4 separate regions of the Homo sapiens genome follow, and regions 1, 2 and 4 are each linked to region 3. The links come from fine-mapping of genetic effects on gene expression. A gene starts in region 3. Each other region holds a variant in brackets. All regions are shown on one strand. Distances are between the middles of the regions.

What was found. PIP is the estimated chance that this variant, and not a neighbour inherited with it, causes the effect.
Region 1: its variant is fine-mapped to the expression of MGME1 in coronary artery (GTEx, PIP 0.98).
Region 2: its variant is fine-mapped to the expression of MGME1 in fibroblasts (GTEx, PIP above 0.99). The same link has a PIP of 0.9 or more in monocytes, spleen, subcutaneous fat, visceral fat and whole blood.
Region 4: its variant is fine-mapped to the expression of MGME1 in whole blood (INTERVAL, PIP 0.98).

What each region holds. Positions count from the first base shown.
Region 1 is chr20:18,224,428-18,232,465 of GRCh38, forward strand. No RefSeq gene overlaps it. Among named protein-coding and RNA genes, the nearest start is that of ZNF133, 60 kb to the right of the region's middle. RefSeq lists an enhancer at 884-1,383. The variant T/C (reference allele first, on the strand shown) is at 4,669.
Region 2 is chr20:17,988,410-17,996,447 of GRCh38, forward strand. MGME1 (mitochondrial genome maintenance exonuclease 1) reads left to right here. Exons shown (of 5, transcript NM_052865.4): 5 at 1,530-2,713. The coding sequence ends at 1,700. Among named protein-coding and RNA genes, the nearest start is that of MGME1, 23 kb to the left of the region's middle. RefSeq lists an enhancer at 7,722-7,791. The variant C/T (reference allele first, on the strand shown) is at 4,303.
Region 3 is chr20:17,966,617-17,973,796 of GRCh38, forward strand. It overlaps MGME1 (mitochondrial genome maintenance exonuclease 1), which reads left to right and starts at 2,402. Exons shown (of 5, transcript NM_052865.4): 1 at 2,402-2,525; 2 at 3,185-3,754. The coding sequence starts at 3,244. SNX5 (sorting nexin 5) reads right to left here and starts at 2,178. Exons shown (of 13, transcript NM_014426.4): 1 at 1,759-2,178. The coding sequence starts at 1,809. RefSeq lists enhancers at 891-1,645, 1,507-1,556, 1,607-1,776, 1,646-2,400, 2,017-2,326 and 3 more and a silencer at 1,807-2,016.
Region 4 is chr20:17,926,002-17,934,039 of GRCh38, forward strand. No RefSeq gene overlaps it. Among named protein-coding and RNA genes, the nearest start is that of SNORD17, 33 kb to the right of the region's middle. RefSeq lists an enhancer at 3,256-3,782 and a silencer at 5,521-5,721. The variant C/CT (reference allele first, on the strand shown) is at 4,826.

The sequences.
Region 1 (8,038 bases), 260 kb after region 3:
CCAAAACCCAAGGTGTTGGCACAGCCGTGCTCCCTCTGAGGGTGCTAGGGAAGGAAATGCTCCAGGCCTCTCTCCCGGCTTCTGGAAGCCTTAGTCTTTCTGGGGCAGTAGCTGCTTCACGTGATCCTCTGTAATCACACAGCGTTCTCCCTGTGTCTCCACACCATTGCCCTCTGCATGTATGTTCAAATTTGCCTTTTTTACAAGGGTACCAGTGACCCCATCTTAACTTAGCTAAATCTGCAAAGATTCTATTTCCAAGTAAGCTCACAATCTGAGATACTAGAGATAGGATTTCAACATATGTTTTTTGAGGAATACAATTCAACCCATAGCAGCTGCCCACAAGAGACCATGTCTCTAAATAAATAAACAAAACAACAAAACAATGCTTTCTTTACAGAAATCTCTCTCAGTGGCTGGGAAGACAGTATACCAAAAGCCCAGGTTTAACTTGATTTGATGGGTGATCCTAGGAATTTTTGTTCTTTGTATGCAACTTCCTATTGGCTAATAGGACCCAAAAAAAATCCATTTCAGGGACTCAGAGGGTAGGCGGTGTCTGTGTATCAGCCTGGCCTTATGCCCCCTCGGAGCCCCAGGCTGACTCATGGCAGGGTTCTCTCAGCTCAGCCCTCGTGCTTTCTTTGTTTCTCTTGTTGTTGAGCACAGCCTGGTTTTCCTGCCGGCTCCCACAGAGAGTGTGCCCTGTCCCACATCTCTGACGAGCTGACAATACAGAGCTGCAGGCTGGAGCCCCTGAGGACTGAGAGTATACTGACCTCTAACTTCTTCACCCTTGTCTGCAAGAAAAGAAAGCCTCTGAGCTGCAGGGTGGCAGGTCCTGGCTGTGTCATGATTCTTGAATCACAGATGTTTTTCTTGGCTGAATGCCGGGGCCAAACTATCCAGGGAACACTGGTGGGGCAGGGAAAAAAAAGAAGAAAGCCCTAAGTTTGTTTTCTTTGCTGTCTTTTTCATCCAGATTTAAACAGTGTCAAGGCTAAGACTGAGCAGATCTAGGGACAAACAGCAACAACCACCATCTGGAAAATCAGCGGGCAAGGTGCTCTGGCTAGGCCAGCAGGCACAGCAGCCCTTCAGAGGTGGTGACATTTGACTCTCGGCATAATCCCCCGTGTCCTGCCATTCTTTTGCTTACCTTTCCCATTCTGGGGTCTGCACTAAGGTCTGGAATTGAGAGCTGCTATATAGGACCTGATGTTAGCAGGCGTGTGCCCCAACTGTTTTCTCCAGTATCCTAAAAGAAGAGAAACCCCAAGCCAGCTACATGGATAATTCTTCTCTGGCCAAGAAAGAAAAATGCTCGCATGGATTATGCATTTTCAGAAGGAACCGTGCATTCTCAGAAGGGTGTTTTTCCTTTGCCAAGCTCTGTGCTGGGTTTTTCCTGTGCTGGGCTCAGACAGTGTTTGGCACAGAGTAGTCATTCATTTCACAAGTATGTATTGAGCACGTGTGATGTATTGTTCTAGGTGTTACTTAAATGGACAAAAGAGTAAAATAAAACCATAGTATCTAAACTAATTACAGAGTTTCTAAATGTTGGTGACATAGAGGCCTGGGACATTATTTTAGCTCTGTCATGTAGAGATCAATAGTGATAATTTGTTTTGTTCATGATTAATTAGACAGCAATATCATTGATGCTTCTATTCCAGAGCTGAGGCACCTTATGGTGCCAGTAAGGAGGGAAATGCCAGGAAAAAAAGGGTGAGGACAGTCAAAGGGCACAGGAATCAACCTGAAAGAGCTCCTAATGGCCAAAGCTGAAGCAATTTAAGACTTAAAAAAAGTAATGTTGGATTATAACCATAGAATAAACATCCATGAGTCCATACTGATACCAGTAAGTTTTTAAAAATCAGTAAATAAATAAATAAGGAAGAAAGAGCAGCTTTTGCTTATGTGTAGAAGGAATGAGGAAAATAGAAAATCACTGAGAAAAGCACAATAATAATTGTTGGACTCACCAATGAATTCTAAAACTATTCAGCAAAAGTTTGAGGACAAACAGGATATTTGCAGACTCAAGTATGTCCCCCAAAATGTTTATTAATTACAAAGAGAAATATAGTAATTTCAGAGCAGGCAAATCCAAGAGACACCACCTTAACTAGGTGATCAAAGATACTGAGAAGTGACAGCGTGCTGGCAGCCCTCACAGCCCTCGCTCGCTCTGGGTGCCTCCTCGGCCTTGGCACCCACTCTGGCCCTGCTTGAGGAGCCCTTCAGCCCGCCACTGCACTGTGGGAGCCCCTTTCTGGGCTGGCCAAGGCCAGAGCTGGCTCCCTCAGCTTGCAGGGGAGTGTGGAGGGAGAGACGCGAGCTGGAACCAGGGCTGCGCACGGTGCTGGCGGGCCAGCTGGAGTTCCGGGTGGGCGTGGGCTTGGCGGGCCCCGCACTTGGAGCAGCCAGTCGGCGCTGCCGGCTCCGGGCAATGAGGGGCTTAGAACCCAGGCCAATGGCTGCGGAGGGTATGTTGGGTCCCCCAGCAGTGCCGGCCCACCGGCACTGCGCTCGATTTCTCACCGGGCCTTAGCTGCCTCCCTGCGGGGCAGGGCTCAGGACCTGCAGTCCACCATGCCTGAGCCTCCTCCTCCTCCGTGGGCTCCTGTGCGGCCTGAGCCTCCCCGACGAGCGTGGCCCCCCGCTCCACAGCGCCCAGTCCCATCGACCACCCAAGGGCTGAGGAGTGCAGGCGCACGGCGCGGGACTGGCAGGCAGCTCCACCTGCTGCCCTGGTGCTGGATCCACTGGGTGAAGCCAGCTGGGCTCCTGAGTCTGGTGGGGACTTGGAGAACTTTTATGTCTAGCCAAGGGATTGTAAATACACCAATGGGCACTCTGTATCTAGCTCAAGGTTTGTGAATGCACCAATCAGCACCCTGTGTCTAGCTCAGGGTTTGTGAATGCACCAATCAACACTCTGTATCTAGCTATTCGGGTGGGGACTTGGAGAACCTTTGTATGGACACTCTGTATCTAGCTAATCTAGTGGGGACGTGGAGAACCTTTGTGTCTAGCTCAGGGATTGTAAATGCACCAATCAGCACCCTGTCAAAACAGACCACTGGGCTCTCTGTAAAATGGACCAATCAGCAGGATGTGGGTAGGGCCAGATAAGAGAATAAAAGCAGGCTGCCAGAGCCAGCAGTGGCAACCTGCTCGGGTCTCCTTCCACGCTGTGGAAGCTTTGTTCTTTCGCTTTTCGCAAATCCTGCTGCTGCTGCTCACTCTTTGGGTCTGCACTACCTTTATGAGCTGTAACATACGCCGTGAAGGTCTGCAGCTTCACCCCTGAAGCCAGCGAGATCGCAAACCCACCGGGGGGAGCGAACAACTCCAGACGCGCGCCCTTAAGAGCTGTAACACTCACTGCGAAGGGCTGCAGCTTCACTCCTGAGCCAGCGAGACCACGAACCCACCAGAAGGAAGAAACTACGAACACATCCGAACATCAGAAGGAACAAACTCTGGACACGCCGCCTTTAAGAACTGTAGCACTCACCACGAGGGTCCGCGGCTTCATTCTTAAAGTCAGTGAGACCAAGAACCCACCAATTCCGGACACAATGCCATCACCAGTAAGAAGATACATCAACATGATGTTCCCTCAGTAGGATGCAGGGAGAAGGAACAATGCCACCTGTGGTTTCCTGCCCAAAATGAATAGACTCCATCTAACGCCGAGACACACCCACGTTGAGAGATATTCTACGAAATCAGTGACCAGTACTTTTCAACAGTGGCAAAGTCATGAATGACAAGGGAAGACTGAGGGACTGTCACAGGTTTTAGGAGATTAAGGAGACATGACATCTATATGTGATAGTGGGAAAACTGTTGAAGCCCAAATAAAGTCTGCAGCTATGTTAATAGTATAGTACCCATGTCCATTTAGAATTTTTTTTTTTTTTTTTTTTTTTTTTTTTGAGACTTGAGACTCTCTCCATCACCCAGGCTGGAGTGCAGTAGGGCGATCTCGGCTCAGTGCAAGCTCCGCCTCCCAGGTTCACGCCATTCTCCTTCCTTAGCACCCCCTTCCCTCTTCCCCACCCCCCCACCCCCGCCATCAACTGGGACTACAGGCACCCGCCACCACGCCCAGCTAATTTTTTGTGTTTTTAGTAGAGACGGGGTTTCACTGTGTTAGCCAGGATGGTCTCGATCTCCTGACCTTGTGATCCGCCCGCCTTGGCCTCCAAAAGTGCTGGGATTACAGGCGTGAGCCACCGCGCCCAGCCTAGAAAAAAATTTTTTATAGTAAATAATCAAACAAGAATGTACATTTCTTAATTTTAATGTGGTTATACCAGATGTTGATATTGGGGGTAAAGGAGAACTCTACTATCTGCAACTTTTCTGTGAGCCTAAAACTGTTCTTTTTAAAAGCAAGAATACATTTGACGCTCAGTGCAGTGTCTCACACCTGTAATCCCAGCAGTTTGGAAGGGCGAGGGAGGCAGATCACCTGAGGTCAGGAGCCTAGCCAACATTATGAAACCCTGTCTCTACTAAAAATATAAAAACCAGCTGGACATGGTGGCAGGCACCTGCAGTCCTAGCTACTCTGGAGACTGAGGCAGGAGAATCCCTTGAACCCAGGAGATGGAGGTTGCAGTGAGCCGAGATCACTGTGCACTC[T/C]GCACTTAACTTTTTCAGAACAAAATACTGTATAAGCCACACTACCCCATACAAAGAACTGTAATTATTTGTAATTCTTATGAACTAGGTATTCATTTGTACAAATCTGGAAAGCCAGTGGGCGACAGAGTGAGACTCCGTCTCAAAAAAAACAAACAAAAAAAGGATACATTTGAAATCAGGTCTATTTTAGATTCCATAGAAAAAGATTTACTTTTAAAGATTCAGAATGGCCGGGTGTGGTGGCTCACACCTGTAATCCCAGCACTTTGGGAGGCCGAGGCAGCCAGATCATGAGGTCAGGAGATCGAGACCATCCTAGCTAACACGGTGAAACCTCGTCTCTACTAAAAGTACAAAAAATTAGCCAGGTGTGGTGGCGGGCGCCTGTAGTCCCAGCTACTCGGGAGACTGAGGCAGGAGAATGGCGTGAACCCAGGAGGCGGAGGTTGCAGTGAGCGGAGGTTGCAGTGAGCCAAGATTGTGCCACTGCACTCCAGCCTGGGCAACAGAGCAAGACTCCCTCTCAAAAAAAAAAAAAAAAAGATTCAGAATGGGCTGGGCGTGGTGGCTCACGCCTGTAATCCCAGCACTTTGGGAGGCCGAGGTGGCAGATCACCTGAGGACCAGCCTGGCTAACATGGTGAAACCCTGTCTCTACTAAAAATACAAAAATTAGCCAGGCATGGCGGCACCCACCTGTAATCTCAGCTACTCAGAAGGCTGAGGCAGGATAATCACTTGAACCTGGGAGGCGGACGTTGCAGTGAGCGGAGATCATGCCATTGCACTCCGGCCTGGGCGACAGAGAGAGACTCCGTCTCAGGAAAAAAAATAAAAAACAAAGATTCAGAATGATCTGGTTTTATAAAGCATGTGTTTATCATGAACTTGGTGTATTTAAGAGCGTAAACCCGTGTGTCTGTGAAAGGCTAAACCGGCTGTCAAGGTAACTGAGCCTTTGTTCTTGCTTTGCCCCTTTCTGACTCAGCATTACCAGGTCATCTTGGCTTTCCAGATTTGTACAAATGAATACCTAGTTCATAAGTATTACAAATGATTACAATTCTTTGTATGGGGGTAATGTGGCTTATACAGTATTTTGTTCTGAAAAACAAAGTAATACAAAAACTAGTCAGTGGTGTGAATTTTGTTTACCTGAAATCAGATGTCATGTTGATCACGTAACTTCTTCTGGCCTAACATTGACGCATTGATATCCTCAGACCAGGTCCAGAGAGGCCACTTCCCATAATACCAGGCTTTCATTACTGGCACCAAATTGGTGGGGAGAAAAAAGAAAGAAGGGATTTCTTTCTACTAAATAAACTCTTAGGACCTTCTGAGAGAAAGGATCAAATCTCAGGTAACCAGAAAGGTCACTGTGATTATGAAAATCATAGCAACCAATGGTTAAGCAGAAATGTAGATGACGCCATTTCTATTGTATCCATGTAACTACTGAGAAGAGTTAAATATTTCCTACTTCTACTGTCTGTGTACTTCTCAAAGAAACCTTTTTTTCAGTTGTTTTTTTTTTTTTTTTGGAGACTGAGTCTTGCTCCGTCGCCCAGGCTGGAGTGCAGTGACACAATCTTGGCTCACTGCAACCTCTGCCTCTCGGGTTCAAGCGATTCTCCCTGCTTCAGCCTCCCGAGTAGCTGGGACTACAAGTGCGTGCCACCGTGCCCGGCCTTTTAGTCTTTTTTAAAAAAAAATTTTGTATTTCCATAGTTTTTTTGGGGGGGAACAGGTGGTGTTTGGTTCCATGAGTAAGTTCTTTCGTGGTGATTTCTGAGATTTTGGTGCACCCACCACCCGAGCAGTGTACACGGAACCCAATTTGTAGACTTTTATCCCTCACCCCCTTCCCACCCTTTCCCCCTGGAGTCCCCACTGTCTATTGTATCATTATTATGCATTTGCGTCCTCATAGCTTAGCTCCCACTTACGAGTGAGAACATACGATGTTTGGTTTTTCCATTCCTGAGTTACTTCACTTAGAATCATAGTCTCCAATCCCATCAAAGTTGCTGGGAATGCCATTAATTCATTCCTTTTTATGGCTGAGTAGTATTCCATCACATATATATACCACAGTTCAAATAAACCTTTATTTTTAAGAATGCTGTATTTCTGGCCAGGCACAGTGACTCACGCCTGTAATCCCAGCACTTTGGGAAGCCAAGGCGGATGGATCACAAGGTCAAGAGTTCAAGACCATCCTAGCCAACATGGTGAAACCCCATCTCTACTAAAAATACAAAAATTAGCCAGGAGTGGTGGCATGTGCCTGTAGTCCTAGCTATTAGGGAAGCTGAGGCAGGAGAATCACTTGAACCCGGGAGGCGGAGGTTGCAGTGATCTGAGATTGCACCACTGCACTCCAGCCTGGGTGACAGAGCGAGACTCTGTCTCAAAAAAAAAAAATTGCTGTATTTCTTAACCAGGCACAGTGGCTCATGTTTGTAATCCTAGCACTTTGGGAGGCCGAGGCAGGCAGATCACTTGAGGCCAGGAGTTCAAGACCAACCTGGCCAACATGGTGAAACCCTGTCTCTACTAAAAATACAAAAATTAGCTGGGCGTCGTGGTACATGCTTGGAATCCCAGCTACTTGGAAGGCTGAGGCATGAGAATCACTTGAACGCAAGAGGTGGAGGTTGCAGTGAGCCAAGATCATGCTACTGCACTCCAGCCTGGGTGATGGAGTGACACTCTGTCTCAAAAAGAAAAAAAAGAAAAATGCTGTATTTTTAACAACATGTGCTATGTGTTCTTTCTTGGTCTATGAATAATAACCCTTATTGTGTAGGGAAAATGTGGCTGCAGCCAGGGTCACCATCGACACTTGTGCATACTGTGCACTACAAAATGCACCCAGCTGAGGGACAAGTAGGGGCTGACATCTGTCTTCCTCTCTGCTCCCCACGCTGCATGCCTGTGGGGCTGTAACTACCCAGAGGAATGCATGTCTTTTTCTAATTACACAAAGGTGCCAACTGGCTGTTAGCTCTACTCGTAGGTGTAGTGTATGTGTAATGGACTGGATCAGCAAATTGAGAGAGAGATTACAAGTTCAGTGCAGCAAAAGGCATTGTGGTGATCTATTTGAAATTCTTTACCATATTATGAAAAATATTCCTCTCTAAATCTAGTGTTTTCATTGAAAAATTCATACTCTCTGCCATACCAGAAACCTACTGTCACTACTCACATATTCTTCAGAAATTTCCTGAATACATCCAAATATATATTTTTGTACACACACACAGCCACAGCCACACATATATTCATTTATGCAAATGGAAGTTTGCTATTTTATCCCTTGTTTTTTTAAAAACTTCAAGATTTTTATTATTGTGGTAAA
Region 2 (8,038 bases), 22 kb after region 3:
GGCCGGTGGATCACTTGAGGTCAGGAGTTCAAGACCAGCCTGGCCAATATGGTGAAACCCTGTCTTTACCAAAAATACAAAAACTAGCTGGGCATGGTGGCTCATGCCTGTAATCCCAGCTATTCTAGTAGCTGAGGCAGGAGAATTGCTTGAACCCGCGAGGTGGAGGTTGTAGTGAGCCAAGATTGCGCCACTACACTCCAGCCTGGGCAAGAGAGTGAGACTCCATCTCGAATCTGTCTCAAAAAAAAAAAAAAAAACTTCTCAGTGGGGGGGTAGGAGGAGAAAAATTGTAAAAAAAAAAAAAGTTAAAAAATAGAACTCCTTGAGGTTTTTCCTTTTTTAATCTCTATTTTTATCCCATTGCTTAACGTCTTCCTTGTTCCTTTCCCACTTAAAAAAGCACTTTTTGGCTGGGCACAGTGGCTCACGCACTTTGGGAGGCCGAGGCAGGCAGATTGCTTGTGCTCAGGAGTTTGAGTCCAGCCTGGGCAACATAGTGAAACCCCGTATCTACAAAAAAAATACAAAAATTAGCTGGACATGGTGGCGCACACTTGTGCCAGCTACTTGGGAGGCTGAGGTGGGAGGATTGCTTGAGCCCAGGAAGTGGAGGTTCCAGTGAGCCGAGATTGTACCACTGCACTCTAGCCTGGCCGACAGAGCAAAACCCTGTCTCAAAAATAAATAAATAGGCCAGGTGTGGTGGCCCAAGCCTATAATTCCAGCACTTTGGGAGGCCGAGTTGGGCAGATCACCTGATGTCAGGAGTTCAAGACCAGCTTGGCTGACATGGCGAAACCCTGTCTCTACTAAAAATACAAAAATTAGCTGGGCGTGGTGGTGTGTGCCTCTAGTCCCACCTACTTGGGAGGCTGAGGCAGGAGAATCGCTTGAACCCAGGAGGCGGAGGTTGCGGTGAGCCAAGGTTGTTCCACTGCACTCCAGCCTGGGCAACAGAGCAAGACTGTCTCTCTCCAAATAAATAAATAAATAAATAAATAAATAAATAGCACTTTTTGGCCAGGGGTGGTGGCTCATGCCTGTAATCCCAGCACTTTGAAGGAGGCCGAGGTGGGCAGATTGCTTGAGCCCAGGAGTTCAAGACCAGCCTGGGCAACGTGACAAAACTCCATCATTACTAAAAATAGAAAAATCAGCCGGAAGTGGTGCCCGCCTCAGCTTCGAGGGTGCAACGAGCCGAGATTGTGCCACTGCACTCCAGCCTGGACGATGGGAGTGGGATCCTGTCTCAAAAAAGAAAAAAAAAGCACTTTTCCACCCTCTTCTTGGGCCTTTTTTTTTTTTCAATGGCTCTGTAAGGATCACAGCCCAGTCTTCAATGTTTTATCTGTCATCTTTGTGTTCTTGTGTCCTGGTGCAGTCTTTGATCAACCTACCTTAGAAACTGAGTTAGGAGATATCCTGTAGATTATTTTATACTGAGTTTGCCCTGGAGTAAGAAGGAAACGAACCTAAACTCTGGACCTACTGTAGTGAAACGAGAATTGCCCTGTGTTTCTTCCTAGGTTCAATGTGGCTTAATTGTGGTGGCCTACAAAGATGGATCACCTGCCCACCCACATTTCATGGATGCAGAGCTCTGTTCCCAGTACTGGACCAAGTGGCTTCTTCGACTAGAAGAATATACGGAAAAGAAAAAGAACCAGAATATTCAGAAACCAGAATATTCAGAATAGGGAGCAAGTTGCTATTTGGGAACATTCAGCACCTTCTCACAGTTTGGGAACATATATTGCTGTTTACTCCAGTGTAAAAATGAGGTGCCACTGGATCTGAGTGCTACACGAACACAAGTAGAAGTATTAATTTGTTGAAATGTGTTGTTACCAAAAAGACTGAAAAGCCCCAAAGTCTAGATATAAAGACCTAGACTTCGGCACGCGAAATCCCAGCTATGCTACCTCTTATTTACCTGAAAGGAGGACACGCAGGATGGGCAGTCATGCTGGTGACTCTTGTACTCCCTTGAGGGACATTGGGGGGGGGGGGGCGTGGTCCCAGGCAGGATGCCCAGTCTTTGAGCTGAGATTGGAAGGCAGTGAGGCTGAGGGTGCCAAGATTTCCCCAGGGTTCACCCAGAGGGGAAGGGGCTACATGCCCCCAGCTGTGTGCAGGGAGGACACATCAGCCCACTACCGCTGCCAACACCAATGCCTAAAACTTGTTTCATACATTGGGGTTTTCTATATATTTCAGCTGGGAAAAGCTTACATTTAACCTTTTGAAAAAATAAATACGTGATTAGCCTCAACTAAACATTGCTGACTATAAAGACAGTATATTCACCATGTCGCTGGCAATATGTCATTGCGTAACACCAAATAACCCCCCAGAAGTAGCCAGAGGCCAGTTTGAACATCACAATTCTAAGTGTTTTAGTAACTATTTCTGGCGTGAGTCAACAGATCATGTAGATAGAGTCAATTATTGTTTGTGGAGTTTTTCAGCTATAGGGGAGGGGAACTATTAAAATCCATTTGTTTCTATTCAATAGGTAATAAAAATTAGTTGTCCCTGGGTTTGGGAAACTTAAATGCCCATTACAGCCCTGGGGAAGGGTTTTCTGTCTTATGGAGTGAGTCTTAGCATTTAAGTTATACAGTTGCTGCCTTAAAATAGTAGCCTGCTACAATGACTTCTTTGGGTAGCCATTTTCATAAGAAATAAAATACAAGATATGAGTAATGAAGCTTTGGTTTTGTTTACTTTGTGTGTTTATAGGATAATTTTATAAACCTGGAAATTGTTTGCACTTTTTTTATAATTCAGAATTTTACAAGCCCAATAGCTTTGGTGAGAGTTCTGTGTAAGTGCATAAAAGAAAGCGTCCTCGGCTGGGCGCAGTGGCTCACGCCTGAAATCCCAGCACTTTGGGAGGCCGAGGCGGGCGGATCACAAGGTCAGGAGATCGAGACCATCCTGGGTAACACGGTGAAACCCCGTCTCTACTAAAAATACAAAAAATTAGCTGGGCGTCGTGGCGGGCGCCTGTAGTCCCAGGTGCTCCGGAGGCTGAGGCAGGAGAATGGCGTATACCCGGAAGGCGGAGCTTGCAGTGAGCCGAGATCACGCCACTGCACTCCAGCCTGGGCGACAGAGCGAGACTCCGTTTAAAAAAAAAAAAAAAAAAAAGCCTCCTCACTAAGCCCTCAGCCACGGTCACCTAGCAAGGAAAGCAATATTCAGGTAGGAGATGGGAGGATCAAGGGGGACCTTTGTATTATCTCTATACACTTCTGCATTCATGTGGGTTTTTCTCAAGCTGCAGATACATATTTCTGTAGCCTGTAAATTCCAGTCAAAAATGAAGTGAGGCAATTAAAAGTTGTGCTAGCAGAGTTTGCCACTCTGCTCTAATAAGCCTCAACCTAGAATTTAGGAGGCTAGACCTAACAAAATTTCTTTTTATTTTTCTTTTTTTTTTTTTTTGAGACCATCTGGCTCTGTCAGCCAGGCTGGAGTGCGGTGGGCTCACTGCAGCCTCCGCCTTCCGGGCTCAAGCAATTCTCCTGCCTCAGCTTCCCAAGTAGCTGGGATTACAGGCGTGCACCACCATGCCCTGCTAATTTTTGTATTTTTAGTAGAGACAGGGCTTCGTCATGTTGACCAGGGTAGTCTCAAACTCCTGACCTCAGGTGATCCGCCTGCCTCAGCCTCCCGAAGTGCTGGGATTACAGGCGTGAGTCACTATGTCCAGCTGCAAAATTTCATTTTAATACAGGTGTTCTGTTATGTAAATAGAAATTTGTCTCAGACCTGTGACTTTGTACTAGGAGTCTCCCAAGATAATGGTGGCCTGAAAAGTTCTATGAGGGAGCCCCTCAGGAGAGTGTGACCAGGAGGATGTGGTTGGTATAAGAACAGAGAAGGTAAATCCCTGGGCAGGTTTTCTTGACCTCAAGGGCTCACCAGTTTCTCCTGATAATCATGATACTCCTCGGGGGTCACATCTCCTGAGATGTTAATGTCAACGGAAAAAGTTATTGTTACTACGAAAGCATAGGAGGAGAAAGTCAAATTTGAGTTTCTAAATGAGTTGCAGTTTTTCAAGAATTAACATGTATGAGGCAGTGGCTTACGCCTGTAATCTCAGCACTTTGGGAGGCCGAGGCGGGTGAATCACTTGAGGTCAGGAGTTCAGGACCAGCCTGGCCAACATGGTGAAACCCTGCTTCTCTACTAAAAATTAAACTAGCTGGGCCTGGTGGTGCACACCTGTAGTCCCATCTGCTTGGGGAACTAAGACGGGAGAATTGTTTGAACCCAGGAGGCAGAGGT[C/T]GCAGTGAGCTAAGGCCACGCCACTGCACTCCAGCCTGGGCAGCAGAGCGAGTCTCCGTCTCAAAAAAAAAAAAAAAAAAAAAGGAATTAACACGTATGTTAGGAATTGTTGGTTGCCATCTCTTTGCCGAAGTGAAATACTGCATATGAAACTCCAGTGAAATGAAACAGCATTCAAAATAAGGAGAGACGCTCAAGGATAATTTACATTTTTTTAAAGGAGGTGTGTGTATATTGCTTTTCTGAGGAGGCTTTCTCAGAAGTACAGAATGTTGCCTTCCAGTGTTTAGTTTTGAGAAAATCCGTTGGCTTCAAAGCTAACTGCATTTCCTTTTCCTCCACAGTTCTACCCATTCTTACCAATGCAGTCAGCAACTGACAGAAGTTCCATGCTGACACAAAAGCCAATTTTGTTTTTTCCAAAAAAAAAAAAAAAAAAGTATAAATATATACACATACATGTATGGCCTTTTTCCTCCTTACACCTGGCCTCTTCCTCAGAGCCTGATAATCTGAGAACATTAGCCTCTATAACCCTATTATAATTCTAGGAAAACTCGTCAGTGTATGACCTACGGTTTCATATGTGTTGACCTTGGTAAATACAGGAAGGGGGTTAGTCATAAGTCAGTGTGTTCCTAGGTAACCAATTTGGCTACTGGCTTTAAAAGGAATTGGAGAAGGGTACTTTGTTTTAATCACTGAGGCTTTCCACCCGAGCAATTAAATATTTGATTATAACCTACCCTGTGTTCCTGCCCACCCCTCAACAAAAGAGTGAAGGAAGGGAATCATTGGAGTAAAAAACATTAAGAAACAAAATAGAGAATAGTTGAAACTTCCATGTTTAAAGAAACAATAAGTTGTTTGGAGCTATGTGTTAAATCACTCAATGCTAAGTAAAAAGTAGAACTGACTTTTCCTTCCTGCCTCCCTTCCCGCCAGCAGAGGCCTAAAAGTTAAGCAGATATGTGCTTCTGCTGGAAGTCTAACCTACTGATCCACTTCAGTTATTTATACTATTGAAGGGAACTAGAGAGAATCTCTGGGGAGAGACCCCAGAATGAGCAAAAGGCTTGTATGTTGCCATGACAATAACAATTGTCAGGTTGAGTAATGCATTTGTGAAGATCCAATCATAAAAAGATGGCCAGGCACAGTGGCTCATGACTGTAATCTCAGCACTTTGGGACGCTGAGGCAGGCGGATCATTTGAGCTCAGGAGTTTGAGACCAGCCTGGGCAACATGGCAAAACCCCATCTCTACCAAAAATACAAAAAAGTAGCCAGGTGTGGTGGCATGCACCTGTGGTCCTAGCTACTTGGGAGGCTGAGGGAGGATCGCTTGAGCCTGGGAGGTGGTGGTTGTAGTGAGCCAAGATTGCACCACTGCACTCCAGCCTCAGCAACAGAATGAGACCCTGTCTCAAATAAATAAATAAATAATGTTTTGGGTTCAGATTTGAGGGTTTTTTCCCATTTTACTTAAGAAATAGATATAAAATATGTAGATTGTTACAGGCCAGGTGCAGGGGTTCACACCTTGAACCCAATGCTTTGGGAGGCCAAGGCTAGAAGATCGCTTGAGGCCAGGAGCTGGAGACCAGCTTAGGCAACATAGAAAGACTCCCATCTCTAAAAAGTAAAAAGTCGTGTAATCCCAGCACTTTGGGAGGTCGAGGCAGGCGGATCACGAGGTCAGGAGATCGAGACCTTCCTGGCTAGCACAGTGAAACCCTGTCTCTACTAAAAATACAAAAAATTAGCCAGGCGTGGTGGTGGGTGCCTATAGTCCCAGCTACTCGGGAGGCTGAGGCAGGAGAATGGCATGAACCCGGGAGGCGGAGCTTGCAGTGAGCCAAGATCACGCCACTGCACTCCAGTCTGGGCGACAGAGCGAGACTTTGTCTTGGGAAAAAAAAAAAAAAGTCGTTGGGCATGGGGGTCATGCTGATAGTCCTAGCTACTTGGGAGGCTGAGACAAGAGGATCACTTGAGTCCAGGTGTCCAAGGCTGCAGAGAGCTATGATCACACCACTACACTCCAGCCTGGGTGAGACCTTGTCTCTAAAACAAACAACAACAACAACAAAAAATAGACCAGGCCAGCGCGGTGTCTCATGCCTGTAATCCCAGCACTTTGGGAGACTGAGACGGGTGGATCTTCTGAGGTCAGGAGATCGAGACCAGCCTGGCCAACATGGTGAAACCCCGTCTCTACTAAAAATATAAAAATTAGTCGGGCGTGGTGGTGGGCACCTGTAATTCCAGCCATTTGGGAGGCTGAGGCACGAGAATTGCTTGAACCCAGGAGACAGAGGTTGCAGTGAGCCAAGACCATGCCACTCCACTCCAGCCTGGGCAACAGAGCGAGCAAGACTCAGTCTTCTAAAAAAAAAAAAAAAAAAAAAAGCATTACAGATAAAAGCTGTTGCCTTGTTTTCTTAATCCCATTTCCCTCTCCCCTGAGACAAATGCCGTCATAAATTTGATGTGGGTTTTTTTGTATAGTTTTACTGTGTGTACTGGTTTCCATGTATAATATAGTTTTGCTTTCTGTGTTTTTAGATTTACTTGCTTTATCTCAACTTTGTTTTTGAGATGTCTCCAGGTTCACCAATTCTAGATCTTTCATAACTGCTTTTAACTCCTCTGCAGTTCTCCCTCCTGTTTTATTGTCATGCTAATGGACTGTTCGGTTAACAGTGTTTTGCTACTCCAGACGATGCAGCAGTGAACACCTTTGCACGTGTTTTCTGGTACACACAATACACATGCAATATAGTGGAAAGTGCAGTATGGATTGTGACTCTGCCACTTACTAGCTCTGTGACCTTGGACTAGTTACTTGACCTTTTTTTTTTTTTTTTTTTGAGAGGGAGTCTCACTCTGTCGCCCAGGCTGGAGTGCAGTGGCACGATCTCGGCTCACTGCAAGCTCGGCCTCCAGCGTTCACGCCATTCTCGTGCCTCAGCCTCCTGAGTAGCTGGGACTATAGGCACCCGCCACCACGCCCGGCTAATTTTTTTTGTATTTTTAGTAGAGACGGGGTTTCACCTTGTTAGCCAGGATGGTCTCGATCTCCTGACCTCGTGATCCACCCACCTCGGCCTCCCAAAGTGCTGGGATTACAGGCGTGGGCCACCGCACCCGGCCTGTTACTTGACCTTTTTGTGCTTGATTTCCTCATCTGTAATTTGGGGGAAAATAATAGTATCTGCTTCTTGAAATTGTGAGGATTGAATGAGCGAAGCATTCAGAAAAGTGCCTGACACATGGTGGGAACAAAATGTTAGCCATCCTCCTATCAAATGATCAGACCTGGATGTGTCTCTGCTGGGTCAAAGCTTGAACATTACCACCAAATTCCTCTCCAAAACAGTGACATCGACTTAATGTCCCACCAGTGGTGTCTGAAATTTCCTGATTTCTCGCATATTCTCTAACACAAGAGTTGTGAGCCCCTCTTCTGACGGTATGAAAACCATTTTTTTTTTGGAACAGCATTAACGCGTGAATAAAATCTGCTTTAAAACGCGACTGTCATCTAGTGGTGAGAGAAGTACACTGCAATTATGGGGCAGAAGCCAAAAATGGGCGGACCTACATCTATCTCCGGGTAATTTGGGCATTTTAGTCACCAACACAGGTCTGTTTTGAATAAAATCAACTACATGAGTGTTCTTCCTTTACCTCTGTATTTTCAGGCAGCTTGTACTTCTCACTTTTTCTACTA
Region 3 (7,180 bases):
GAAGAATCAAGTATGTCCCCCTACCTTAGTGAGTCTTAATTAACTCCATCCTTAGGGAGAATTCCAAACCAAAGTAAATTATCAGGAGGGCATTTAAACAATTTAAGTAACACACATTTCAGGTAACACACAAAACATTTCAGTTGACTACCGAAATTGTATTATGGCAAAAAGTTGCCCAAGACTTAGTTTCCCATTATTTCATACTTGCCCCAAACTCCCTTTCAGTTAACCATAACACCATCTAGGCCAGACCACAGCAGGTTATCAGCATCAGCAGAGATCAGAAAACAAAAATAAAGCCACGCGTCAGGGTAATTATTTATTTTTATTGTCTCTTTATTCCTGTAATGTAAAAAGGAAAACAATGTCATGTAACTCTCTTCGCTACAGATACGGACAGTTTCTGTAGCCTCTAAAACAGGCAGGAAATGGCCTTCATAACCATTCTCCAATTTTGCTGGAGGATCAGGGTGGTGGAAGTCATTTTAAAAACCAGCTGCAATATACTGTACTACCAGAGAGTGGGGTGAAGCAATTGAGTCCTTTTACCTAGCTGACTCCGAATCAAGACAGCTAAAAGAATGTACCAGAAAGAAAGAAAAAATAAAATGCTACCAAAATCCCAATCCATTATCTACCCTTTATGGAGAAAAGTACCTTTATAATGTTTTACAAAGAATCGTGGTCTCAAGTTTCCACTTTGTTTTAGTAATAAAGAACTTTCAAAAAAAAAACCACTCTAAACAACACCCTCCTGTATAGAAAGCTCTATTTTAATAATTAATGCAATGATACCCTTGTTGGAACAATCCAGCCGCTTTGAAACTCTGGTATTTACTTACTAGATGAACAAGTTTCTCTATGGAGGTGCCTTTAACTTCTCAAGAAATGTGTAAGTTAAGACGGCTCCAAATTACATTTTAAGAGAGCCTTGTATTTTTAGAGGTTCTTTTTCATCGGTCAGAAAAACTTACGTTGACGATTCTGCAAGAAAGGTTGCTCGCAAACCATGCATCGCAAAGCTACCGAGGCAAATTTAAAGAACCAATGAAAAAGAGTGGAGGCTCGTCTGAATCTTTAATTGGCTATGGGAATTTCAATTTATTGCATAAATAATCTTTTAGACCTCAAGATACACGTGACCTAGGGACAGTTTACATCAATGGGCAAGACTTAAAAATAGACACCAAGTTCAGCAAGTATTTGAGCACCTACTAAAAATTACACAACTCCCACAACAACGCATTTTGCGTTTCTAAAGTTGTAAGCAGCATGTTCGGACGCTTGATGCAATTTCCCAAGTTGTTTGGGCCCCCCCCCCAAAAAAGTCTTCTCAGTAAAAGGTGGGGGGAAGGAGGGTATTTTGGGGGCAACAAACCAAACTGGTCTGTCGCATGTTAAGTCAATTTCACGTTCACCTACTGGTCACCACGAAGCCGAGGAAAGTTTTAAAAAGAACATTCCGGGGTCTCCAGAGATCATCTCTCCAAGTCCGCTCGGCACCGGCGCCTGAGCTGGGGCTAAGGTCCCGCGTCTCTGGTTCTGTCCTAATAGAATCCGGGACATCCACAGGGATTCCCCGGGGCAGCCTTCAGTGAAGACCAGGGAGAGGGGCCGCCCGGGTCTCACGGGTGCTTCCCGCGCTGGGGATGGCGGCGAGCAGCCACGGCCTATGGACGCGCAAGGGAAAGAATGCAGCGACCCCGGAGCTCGCAGGGCCGCCCGCCCAGGAGTCTGAGGCTGGGAGGACCTCACCTTGCTGCGGTCCTCCTCCTGCTGCTGCAGCAACTCGGGAACCGCGGCCATGGCGACGCGGGACTCGAGCAGGGGCCGCCTGGCTGTGCGAGGAAAGAAGAAGCTGGGCCGCCGCCGCCGCCGCCTGGGCGCCTCTCGGGGGCGGCCACGGCCCCGCCTCCGCCGGCCTCCCTGCCCGACGGCGGCAGGAGGCCTCCGGACTCCGCCACCATCCCAGCTGCCCCGGGAGCAGGCGAGCAGGGCGCCACGTGCTCCCCCAGAGCAGCCTCCCAGTCCCCGCTGCCGTCCATCTTGGAGCCGGGCAAAGACGCCACGTGGGGCCTACCCTTGCTCCGCTCCACGAGGAGGCCGCCAACCGCAGGGCCGCGACACGGACGGGAAGCAACGGACACTCTCCCAGCAAGACGCGTCTAGAGAAAGACCGCGTTTCGGTGCGGGGGGAATTTATTACTCAGCCCGAGTCCAAGATGGCAGCGAGCGCTGACGTCACCAGATCTCGTGAGAGCAGAAGGGCGCGATTTGGAGGCTCCCGCGCTTCGGAGACGCCGGCCCTTCCGCTCGGAGAGGTACTCCCTGCCTCTAACTGGTGGCGCGTTGGCGGAGGCCGACGAAAGCCTCGGGTGGGGCGTGAGCGCCGCGGGGCATTCTGGACCTGCTTTGCCTTAGGCTGTGCCTAATTCGAAACCAAAGCGCGGGACGGATGAAAGTACGGGTCGCGAGAGGTTGTTCGCGCCTTGAGAGTTAAGCGAAGTGTGGTGGCTTCCAAGGTACCGACACTTGCCGTAGGCTGGGCTTTTATTTAAGTCGTCTTTTCTCTAATCCAGACTCCTGCCACAGGGGCCACCGCCGTCCTGGCCCCGCCAGGGGTCCGCACCCACGGCGGAGCGGGAGGCGACTTTTTGCGGTCACAGTAATGGGACCTCAGCGCCGCCACCAGCTCTGACCGGCGAGCGACGGGACCCTCCAACCCGATTTCCACGTCTGTGCAACGGGTTCATTCTAGACCCACGGTAGAGGGTGTGAGGACCAAATGAGAAGTATCCACACAGAATACTTAGCAGAGAGCCTGGTGTCTAGGAATTAGTCGTCGTCTGTCACCTAGGACTGTGTGGCCGCCATGGGACGGGCTCCATCTTTGTGTTTTTCCGTGTCTCGCACACGCCTCCCTTCCTGGGCGTCACATTCCTGCAGATTAGAAACTGGGACGTCTTGCCTCAAGCTGTCTACTAATTCGCATTTAGTATGTGTCGGTCCTTCGGGTATTGAGTCTTGATTTATTTATAAATTTTTTTTGGAGGCAGGGTCTCGCTCTGTCGACTTTCTTAAGAAAGGGCTCTGTCCAAACATGTCGAAAAAGTTCACAATTTTGATGTGCAATATCATTCTGATGCAGCTTTCGCTTTGATGGTTGTTTTCTCTCCAATAGGAATACAAACATAAAGGCCTTCGACCGTTGCAAATAGACTAAAGTGAAAACAAATCTGAATGAAGATGAAGTTATTTCAGACCATTTGCAGGCAGCTCAGGAGTTCAAAGTTTTCTGTGGAATCAGCTGCCCTTGTGGCTTTCTCTACTTCCTCTTACTCATGTGGCCGGAAGAAAAAAGTGAACCCATATGAAGAAGTGGACCAAGAAAAATACTCTAATTTAGTTCAGTCTGTCTTGTCATCCAGAGGCGTCGCCCAGACCCCGGGATCGGTGGAGGAAGATGCTTTGCTCTGTGGACCCGTGAGCAAGCATAAGCTGCCAAACCAAGGTGAGGACAGACGAGTGCCACAAAACTGGTTTCCTATCTTCAATCCAGAGAGAAGTGATAAACCAAATGCAAGTGATCCTTCAGTTCCTTTGAAAATCCCCTTGCAAAGGAATGTGATACCAAGTGTGACCCGAGTCCTTCAGCAGACCATGACAAAACAACAGGTTTTCTTGTTGGAGAGGTGGAAACAGCGGATGATTCTGGAACTGGGAGAAGATGGCTTTAAAGAATACACTTCAAGTAATTATCTCAATTCTGATTCTATATGTTTGCTATGTTTTCTATAATAGAGAGCAACGGTGTCAAAAGAATGAGGTTTGGTTTTGTTTTTTTAACTTACTAGCAAGGAACTCCCTTCAGATAGTAATTAACATTAAATAGCACTTTATGTGTATTAACTCACTTGATCCTCATGGTAGTCCTGTGGAGTATAGATACTGTTATCCACATTTTACAGATGAAACTAAAATAGATCAAATATTTGACTAAATAATACATAAAATTCACTTGTTTTATAAGCTACCAACAATATTAGAATTGCTTGTTTTCCTTGATTATTGAAAAAAGTCACCTGGTAACAGAATTCTAGTTGTTTGCTAGATAATTCTGTTTAGAATCCAGTAAATACCCACTGTCCTACTTATTAGCGTAAACTGACTCGTAAATTTAAAGACCTTGAAGCAGACCAGAACACATGACCTATATTTAGACCTTGGTAAACATAATCAGAGGTTCTTCATAAGGATCTGAGGATAAATACACTTTAACCTTCAACTTCTAATTTACTAACTTGGACAAGTGAGGAGAATAGCTTCCTTAAATTTAATATTCCATTCAAAAACAAAGACCATTGGCACTGGTGAATTAGCTAGTCCCATAAATTATATAGGGGTCTTTTGTTAAAGGAAAGTTTCACATCAATCATTCCTTTACCCAAGCTTCCCAAAGTGCAGTACATGTACTCTTAGTAGTACACAAACTCTTTCATTTTTGTTTTAAGAATAGTGTACTGACCCTTGCCATAGCCTGGGCTTCTATTTAAGTCGTCTTTTCCCTAATCCAGACTCCTAAAACTATGCGTGTAACACATTAAACATGTCACATGTTCTAAAGAAAAATACTAAGTATATATAGGTGGTATTGGATATGTACCAAATGGTCAAGGCCTTTGCTCCTTATAATATTCCTCAGCTGTGTGGGGCAAGGATTATATATGCAAGAGCTAACTGCCTTCCTAAGATAGTTAATTAGTAGCAACCACCAAACTATTGTCTGCTTTCCAAGCAAGCAACATAAAAATCTTCTAATGGCATCTTACAGTTTTGTATTTGTACCACTAAAATTTAGAATTGATAGTTTTCTCATGAGAAGTTATTTTCCTTAAACCAGGAATGTACAGCTGAAATTACTAATAAGAAATGTATTATTAAAAGGCAGAAACCTGCTGGAACACATGGGACCCCAGGGCCTGTAGCTCTTGGCACAAAGTAAGGAAGTGCACCAGAGAGGAATTTCTGTTTGGAATGTGAATGAGCCCCAATAGCCCAGGCAGAGAGAAGACTGGTTGTTTTTTTTTTCATAGAGTCAGCTTTGTTGATCTAGATTAGCACTCAGCTGTGTTTCTCAGTTAACTCAGTAGCAACCTTAAGAAATGAGCAGAATCGCTTACCCCAGCACCCCGCCCAGACTTGACCGCCGGGACCCAAGTGATTCTCCCATCTCAGCCTGCTGAGTAGCTGGGACCACAGGCGTGCACCACCATGCCTGGCTAATTTTTTTATTTTTTGTAGCGACAAGGGTCTCCCTATGTTGCCCAGGCTAGTCTCCAACTCCTGTCTTCAAGTGGTGCTCCCACCTCGGCCTCCCAGAATACTGAGACTACAGGTGTGACCCACTGTGCCCAGGCAGAATCACTCTTTTTAGAAAATAAGTATTAGTAAGCAGTGGGTTCTGAAATAAATAAAGGGACAATTAGTGTCATGGTGAATAAAAGAAAAAGGGCTCACTAAATTGATTAACGGGTCTGGAGGATACTGGATCCCAAACCCAAGAAGGTGGCACCCAAGAAGAATTACATTTTAAAAATTAAGAAGATTTTTTTAATGAAAAATATTGGATCAGTAATTTCTACCCAGTCTTCTCAAAGGTGAGAGCATAGAAATGTGTCTGGCATTCTTCCAAATACTTGAGCAGTTTCCCAAGCATCAGTTCATCTTTTGAAGACTGGTGGGAATGAGAAAGTCTGACTTATTCTGATTTATATTTTGTGTATAAATACACACAAAGGGATGGGGTTTAGGTTTTAATTTTTTTTTTTTTTTTTTTGCTACGCTGATTTAATCCTGAAGTATTAGCCATCCTGCCAGTTCCATCATGAGAATACTGGAGATGCATGAAGGTTTTTTTTAGTGCACTTCATATACGAGGACTTGAAAACATTTCACTTTCATTACTTTGAGTGAATAAGCAGACTTGATGCTACATGCAGTGAATATTCTTGGATCATTTTTTATTTTTATAAATTGAATCATGTTGAATGTTCTGAGCCTTAGTGTCTAAAGGATCCTGTAATCTAGGTTTTCATGTTTGTGATCATGTGTATATGAAGAACCTAGCCAGGGGTAAGTTTGCAGCGAGAAATGTATGGTCTATTGGCATGGCATTTGCTAAGTTTTTTTCTTCCTGTTTTTAACATGTTTGTCTTCTGCTTCATTAACCTAGTGTGTAGATGAATGCTATACACTTCTTTTTCCTAGGCTTTAATTCCATCAGTCATAAATTTCTTGTAGGTCTTTCACGTGTTAATAATTCCAATTGAGTCAAGTAAATTTGGAGTAGAATAACTTAGTTCCTAAGTTGAATTTCATTTAACTCTCCAAATAATTTTTCAGAAGGGATTCCATTTTTTGCTAATGATAGAATTGACATTTCCAGCTGGGCATAGTGGCTCATGCCTGTAATCCTAGCACTTTGGGAGGCCGAAGCAGGCGGATCACTTGAGGTCAGGAGTTCAAAACCAGCCTGGCCAAAATGGCGAAACCCCATCTCTACTAAAAATACAAAAAAATTAGCCGGGCGCAGCGATCACTTGTAATCCCAGCTACTACGGAGGCTGAGGCAGGAGAATCGCTTGAACCTGGGAGGTGGAGATTGCAGTGAGCCGAGATCATACCACTGCACTCCAGCCTGGAAAAAAAAAGAATTGACATTTCCATCTTTGTAAAAAATAGTTGAAGGCCGAGTGCAGTGGCTCATGCCTGTAATCCCAGCACTCTGGGAGACCAAGGTGGGACGATTGCTTGAGGCCAGGTGTTTAAGACCAGCCTAGGCAACGTAGAGAGATTGCATCTCTACAAAAAAAAAATTTTTTTGAATTAGCCAGGCGTGGTGGCACATGCCTGTAGAGGAAGCTGAGACAGGAGGATTGCTTAAGGCCAGGTGTTCAAGGTTACAGTGAGCAATGATCGAGCCAGTACACTCCATCCTGGGTGACAAGTAAGACCCTGTCTCAAAAAAAAAAAAACTTGACAAATGTAAAGTTGTTTTCCGCCTTTTCTGTGGGTCTCTCTGCAAGCATGTTCCAAGCACGTGTATTTCCTGCTCTGTTTCTCTGAGTATCTAATTGGTGATTTCCAAGATTGCTTCCTTTGCTCTACTGTGTGGTAG
Region 4 (8,038 bases), 40 kb before region 3:
GAGAAGATCTCAGAGTTGGGTGGAGACTTAGAACCATCTAACCCAATCCTTACCCACATTCATAGGTTCAAGTACCAGGTCTCTGCACCATTTCTAGACATTACTTAGCTTCCCTGAACCTCAGTTTATTCATCTGTAAAATGGGCTCTGCCTGCAGTGGGTGACATTGGGGCTGCACCTGTATCCTGCAGACCCTGATCATCCCTGTGTACAACTTTGCCTGTGTGCTTAGAAGTGTTAGAGAATTCACACTCCCAGGAGCAACCCCCCCAAATAGCCTAACACCCCAACTCCTGAGGGGCAGGATCATTCTTAGGTATGAGTTCTACACTGTCTCCCAGGGACCCCCCATGAGACTGAGCTCCAGCTACCCACAGCAATGAGGTGCTTGACAATACACCCCAAATCAGTCGCCCTCCTCTCCCTCTTTCACTTCCCTACAGCCCCTTGAGATCACTGTCCATATAAAACACTTGCACAAGAATCCATGCAACAGAGTCAGCTTCTGGGGGAACCCAAATTAAGAAACTTTCCAACTTTCTCACAGTGTTGTTGGTAAGATCAGGTACAGCTCTCAGACAAAGGTCGAGGTTATCAGCATGAAACCGTGGCACTATTCTGTGTGCCAGGCAAAGGGAGCCACAGGTTAGTCTGAGTTGGGTATTCTGGGGCTTTTGAACTCTAGGTGGTCACATGGAGACTTTAAGGTAGAATGAACATAAGCCGTAAAAGACAGCAGAGTTGGAGCCTACTGGGCTCCGCCTGGTTTTAACTGCTCCCAACACAACAATCACAACTGCCAATCTCCAAGTTCCAAAGAACTGGCTCTGCCAACGACTCAGAAATAAGTTTTGAGCATAATCTAGCCCGTAGTTGATATCAAGCAGAAGATGTGATCTGTGGTTCTCATAGCTCACAATCTATGCAGAACCCAAAGAGAATATGTAACAATTAACTGAGCAAAACCAGCAGCAAATCCTGGAACATCGTGTGGAACTAGAAGAAGATGGTGGTTTGTTGAAAGAACACAGGAGCCCTGAAGGAGCTCCAAATGGTCAAGGTTGGAAGAATTTAAACAATAAGAAAAATAATGATAGTTTAGGACAATAACCCATAGAGTTAAATAAATGTCCACAAGTCCACACTGATATAAGTATTTGATTAAATAAGTCAATAGGGAAGTGACAGCTCTTCCTTGCAATGAAAATCCAGTCAATCCATGCGGAAGGAAGGAGCAAAGGAGAAATCAGCATTAGGTCAACACCACAGTGGTGATTGTTGCAGACAAGAGCTGCTAATAGACAACAGAATAGGTGGAAGGTTTGAGGAAAAAAGGGGTTTGCAAAGCCTTAAGTATCTCTTCCAGGAGGTTTGTTGACAAGGGTGGGGTTTGGGGACAGAAAAAACATTACCAAGGAAAAGCCCATCAGAGACCACTTGACCAGGTGATCAGGGCCATCATCACAGACGTAAGCCATCAACGCCATGCCCCCGTGACACGTGCAGTGAGCAGGATGCAGCCCCAGGCCTCTGGCGCCCTTGCCTGGGATGCACAACCTGAGCCCAAGTTCAGACAGGCCTGAACTAAGAGACTTCTGCAAAGTAACTGATCAATACTCTTCATGGGTATCTAGGTCCTGAAAGACAAGGAATGACCAAGGAACTATTATAGAGTCTAGAAGACTAGAGAGAAAAAAACAACTATATGCAAATGCGGGATCCTGGATGGGATTCTGGAGCAAGAAAAAGACGTTAATGGGAAAACCAGTGAAGTTCACACGGGATCTTTGGTTTGATTAAGGCTGCTGTACTGAGGTTAATTTCCTGGTTCTGATTACTGTGCTATGGCTTTGCAAATTGTGCTATGGTTTTGCAAGATTGGGGTCAACTGCTGGAGGGACATAGAGAAGTTGCCTGTACCAGGCTTGCAAATTTTCTGCTACTTTTACTACTAGTTTTCTAAAAGTGGGTCAAAATATAAAGGTTTTTTAAAAAAGCATCAAATGTCCAGTTTTTCAGCAGTATCTTTATTAGAAAAGGAACAATCCCCACATTGTGTTGATGTGAGCAGTACTCAAAACTGAGGCAACAGATCTCAAAATATTTTGGCATGTGGGAGTGGGGAGGTAAAGGCTGAAGCCTCCTCTGTCCGAAGCATGCCCCCGAGGCTGGGAGGAGGCAAAAATGACAAATCACATCTGAATCTGTTTGGCAGAAAAAATGTCCAGTGACCTGTCCGAGGGCCAGTCACACATTTATCAGGAGTATTAGCAGCTCCGCATTCCCAGTGCAGGTCTCCCAGGTCCACGCCCTAGCCTCAGCCCAGGACAGGCTCTGATTTCTCCGAAAATGATGTGCAAATCTGTTTCAAACCACATGACCTTTTGCCACAACCTCTTTGTGGCTTGTTCTATTGGATCAGAAGCCAGGAGTATTTTCGGAACATTGCTAATGCTCTGAGCATCTCAGTTCTAGGCCTGTAGGCCACATATGATGTGCGTTGGGCCAGAGGCCCAGGTCAAGGTGTCTCGAGGGAAATTGGAGTCAATGGTGAAGTGAGAAAGCTCTTGTGAGGCCTTTGGCCCCAGTGGGAGGGCCAGGGACAGAGGTGGGCCTGCCTGGTGAGCCCACCTGCAGGCAAGAGGCACCCTGGGGAGGTGCCAGGAAGCAGGGCGCAAGGCAAGGAGGCAGGAACAGCCACGTCTGCTCCTGCCCTTTAAACAAATACCAGGCTGTTCGAGTCCAGAGAAGAAATAAATATTGACAAAGGTGCGGAGCGGCAGGAAGGCCAGGTGGCCGAGGCCCCAGAAGGAACATGGCCTAGATAGGGTCTCCTGGGATGACTGCGAGGAAGCCTCAGCCCCGAGCCACCCTCCCCAGGGGCCCTTGGCGAGGCTGCCTCTACGGAGGTCCTTCCCCCGTCTCGGCAGGTGCTTCGGCACCTTGAGGGCTTGGACTCAGGCTGTCAGGATGAGGAGCCTATCCACGGGATCAGTTGCTGGTGTTTGCCAAAGGTGTGTCCCAGAGGGGCCACCCGTAGCCTCTGACGGTGCCACGGCTGGAAGGCCCTGGCCAAACACCTGTCCCACTTCAACAGCGCGTTCAGTGGATCCCCCAAACCAAAGGGCCTGCTGGCGTTCTTCAGTGAGCTTCTCAAAGTGTGGGTGCAGGGCTCTCAATAGAGGCCCCTGGGCGCTGGGTAAGAGGCACATTCCTGAGCCCACACCTACCCCTCCAGGACACTGCAGGTCGAAGCTCAGGAATGTGCATTTTCACCACCTTCCCTAGTGATTTTAGGCAGAGGGCTCATTAGAGCCAAGTAACAGAAGAGGAAGCGAAGTCTCAGAGAGGGAGCAGCACTCTTTGGCAGCACAGGGAGTGAGGGGCAGCGAGGGAGGAGGGTCCAGGGCAGAGTGAAGTGGCCACACCTGCTCTGTCCCTTGGCTGGAAACAGCCTAATGGTCCAGACGACCCCCTGGGCTATGGGAGCTCAAATCACTTCCCGCCAGAAGGCTTCTCTGACCCCTCACCTCCAGCCCAGGGAGATGCCCCTGCCTGTCCCCTGGGCTCCGCGGCCCCTGGGCTTCCTGCTCCCCTGGCACTGGGCACACTGGAATGCAAATAACCACCGACCCTTGAATGTCCCCACCAGCATGGTGCCTGGCGTGTAGTGGATACGGCCGGGATGCAGGTGCTTGAGCCATGCCATCAGGAATCTCTCCCATCATCTCAGTCCTGCCTTCCCTTCTATGGCCCCCTGCAGTCCCCACTAACCCCAGCTTGCCCTGCAGCTCCAACAGAATGGGAGTGCATCCCCAACTATCAGCCCGGCCACAGTCCCGGGGCTCCCTGTCCTTGGACTGCCAGGGGTCAGGTGCCAGTGTGTGAGCCAGTATCTGTGGCTGGATGCAAGGAGATGAGGCTCCCCTAGGCTAGACCCCAGTGCTCTGGCCACAGCTGCATGCGGGGTGGGGGCAGCCTACCAGAAAGGGCAAGACTGGAAGTGGGGAGGTGCCCCACAGGAAAACCGGGATTCTACCAAGGGCAGGAGGCTGGGCAGGCGGAAACCAGCACCATCCACTCCAGCCCACCTGCCCTCCTGACCTCCCACAATGGCTGCTCTGATGACCAGAAGGTTCCTCAGAAGCCAGTTAAATCTGTTTCTCCTACCCCACACACCTGGCTCTGCCTCTTCCTTTGTTCCCTTGGTGGTCCTGAAAGGCTGGCTGGCTGCTGTCACGTTCCCCACCAACCACCCCAAACCCCACTCCCCTGCCCTCGGGGTATCCCTGGTCCCCCCCACCTTCTCATATGTGCAGTCTTCATGTCGTGGATTCCAGACCCCGGCCCTGCTGGCTGCCTGCCCAGCCAAGAACACCTGCCGTGGACACCTCCCCACGCCTGGGCCACCACCTGCCCAGTCCTCATCACCCGCCATCCAAAAAGTCACTCTGGTGTTGAAGACTCATCTAAACCTGGACCCCAAAATGCTACTGGCATTTAGTCACTATTCCACAGGCCCGTTCTGATTATTTGTTATTTTATTTTATTTGAGGCAGGGTCTTGCTCTGTCACCCAGGCTGGAGTGCAATGGTGCAATCACTAGCTCACTGCAGCCTTGATTTTCTGGGCTCAGATGATCCTCCCACCTCAGCCTCCCAAGTAGCTGGGACCACAGGCACACACCACCATGCCCAGCTAATTTTTTTATTTTTTGGTAGAGACAGGGTCTCCCTATGTTGCCCAGGCTGCGTGATTTTAAAAACATAAATATCTCCAAATTATCTGACCCTCCTAGAGATGAAATCTCCCTGTGGCCGCTGTT[C/CT]TTTTTTTTTTTTTTTTTTTTGAGATGGAGTCTCTCCATGCTGCCCAGGCTGAGCTTGAACTCCTGGCCTCAAGCTATCCTCCTGCCTCAGCCTCCCAAAATGCTGTGACTACAGGTGTGAGACATGGCACCAAGCCTGTGGCCACTTTTTCTTTATTTTCACATGAGATAAAGACACCACCTGAGAAAGTATTTGAGTGTGTGTGTGTGTGTGTGTGTGTGTGTGTAGCTGGGGTATGGAGTCACATGTGCGTGTGGGAAACAAGCCTGAAGGGTTGCTTTGGCACATCACCTCTGGGTCTTGCCATTGCAGTGATTTATTTGCTTTTCTGTATTTTCTACCTTAACATGTAATTTTGGGGAAATTAAAAAATCAATTTAAGAAACTTAATGGATAAACAAAAGACAGTCAATACTGGAAAAGGCACAAATCATGAAGGTAAACCCATAGGCATGGATGTGAATCTCAGCAGTGTGTGGTCTTGGGCAAGTGGCTTGTGCCTTTGCCTCTCTGAGGCCTGGTTTCTCACCCCCCCAAAATGGGGGATTATATAGTAAATGGCAAAAGTGGCTGTAATCTTTGCCACTTCTCCCATCAAAAGATAGAGTTTGTTTTCCCTCCCCCTGAATCTAGGCTGCCCTTGTAAGTTGTTTTGGTTAGTGAAATGCAGGAGAAGGGATGGTGTGCTTGTTCCAAGTGGACCTCAAGGGCCTTGCAGCTTCTACTCACTCTCTTGGAACCCCGCCCAGCTGCCATGAGAACAGCCTGGGCTAGCCCACTGGAGGATGAGAGCCCACACAGAACTAAGACAAGCTATCTCAGTTGACCCCATTCTGAGCCAGCCAGCTGGCCCCAGCAGACCTGGAAGTTGACCTCTGACAACTGAGTGAGCCCAGCTACCAGAAGAACTGCCCAGCTGAGCACAGCCATTAGAAATAAATAGTTTGGGCTGGGTGCAGTGGCTCACACCTGTAATCCCAGCACTCTGGGAGGCCAAGGTGGGTGGATCATGAGGTCAGGAGATCAAGACCATCCTGTGAATGGTGAAACCCCATCTCTACTAAAATTAAAAATACAAAAAAAAAAATTAGCCGGGTGTGGTAGTGGGCACCTGTAGTCCCAGCTACTCAGGAGGCTGAGGCGGGAATGGTGTGAACCCGGGAGGCAGAGCTTGCAGCTAGCCGAGATCATGCCACTGCACTCCAGCCTGGGCGACAGAGCAAGACTCCTTCTCAAAAATAAATAAATAAATAAAATAAACAGTTTGGGGGTAGTTTGTTATGTAGCTAACAACAGCTGACAAACACACTAAACATGCCCCTAACTTATGACCTTTGCCCTTGCTCTTTGCTCTGCCTGAAACCCCACTCCCTGCAAACTCCATGGGCCTTTTCTCTCTCACTGCCTTCAGGTCTCTGCTCAGTGAGGTCTCCCCTGGCCAGTCCATATAAAAAGCCCCTCTCCCATCACTCTCCTTCGTATATATCTTGCCATAGCACTTACCACCTCGCTTCTTTATGTATTTACTTGCTTATTTGTTTATTGTCTCTCTTCCCCCAACACACACACCATGGAATATGAGTGTCATGGGGGCAAGGAGATTCTCTATTTTGTCTACCACTATTAGCGCCCAGCACCTGGTAGGGGTTCAGATATTTGTGGAATAAACAAGTTCATCTTTTGCCTTAGGGGCTCCCATCCAGCTGGCCACAGCGCTCTCACTAAGAAGACGTATTCTGGGCACCTCCCAGCTGCCCGCCTGGCTCTGGGCCCTCAATCCCTGAATGACAGTGGTCACTGCACTTGAATAACCCTCTAGAGTGTAAAGGGACTTCCTCCTTTCCTGCAACCCACTAATGGGGTCTGCAGACCCCACTCTCCAGCCCTGTTTCTCAGGTGAGATAACTGAGGCGGAGAGACTAGTGCAGGTGTAGGGACACAGGTATCTTGTGGCACATCTTGCCTGGTGCTCCCTCAGGCCATTGGACAGAGGCACCTCCTCCCACCACCAAGAGCTGGGCCAGGCATCAGGGATCCCTGGTCTGAGCCTTTTCTTCTCCTAACTTGCATTGAGACCTGAACAGTCCCTAACAGGGAGACAAAAAAAACTTCTCAACAGTGAGAAGCCTCTGACAATCCCAGCACCTCATTAAATAGACTTTCATCATTTCATGCAAAGCTACCAAAGGAAAGAAAACATCAGGGGCTGTTAGACCTTGGCCAGGGGTCCCCTCAACTCTCAGAGCGTCAGGAAGGCTGAGGAAGAGGGGTGAGGGGGAGGGTCCCCCGCAGCCTCTGGCTGGCCTCACCCAGCCATCTCCCATGGCACCTCCTGCCCTGGTCAGAAGCCCTCCTGCCCTCCTGGGCACTCAGGGGAAATCCTCTGCAACTTGGGATGAAAACCACAGAGCAAGAGTCCCTGGAATTCACGTGTGACTGCTTGGTAATGTTGCCTTAGCCCAGCTTTCCCCAAGAGCTGACCCAAAAGGAAGATTCAAGCAGAAGCATTTTGTGGGGGGATGGCCCCAGGAAGCCCCAGTAGGAGTGTGTGCTAACTCTGGGCATTCCCAGCTTGGTGGAGTGTGCCCCTGCCATCAGGGGTGCCCTTGAGAAGAGAGGCAGGCAGGTCCTGATGTAGGATGCCACTGGGTGTGCAGGAAGGAACTGCAGGTGACTTTGGGGGTCCAGGGCCCTGAGGAAAACTGAGAACAGCACTGCTGATCCCAGGGGAGGGGATGGAGAGCAAAGGGTGACTCTAGGGAGGCATTTCAGCAGAGGAGACCCATGAGAAGGGGAGGACCCTCCATCTTCAGGCTGGGTATTGAATTTTCCAAGCCCACCTGGCTAACGACTTTGCCCCCAGAGGCACTTGAGCAAAGGGCCAGCCCCAGCCAGAGCCAGGAGAGCAGGCTCTGCACTGCCGCAGGAGAGCTGCTAGCCCAGCCTGGCTACACCATGGAAGCCCAAAGACAGGAGCTCTTTTACAGAAATGAAACCCCTAGAATTAGTCCCCAGACCAATGGCTCTGCATGCAAAGGCACAGACAGCATAGACTGAAAGTCTACTGTGTGCATAGCTGCAGCCAGGAGATGGGCAGGGGCCCATAAGAGAACACCAAGGTCATGTTCATTAAGCATTCACTGAGGCTGTGCATGGCCTACCTCAGCGCTCACAGCCCCTCCTCCTAGTGGCAACTACGACTCTCCCCTGAG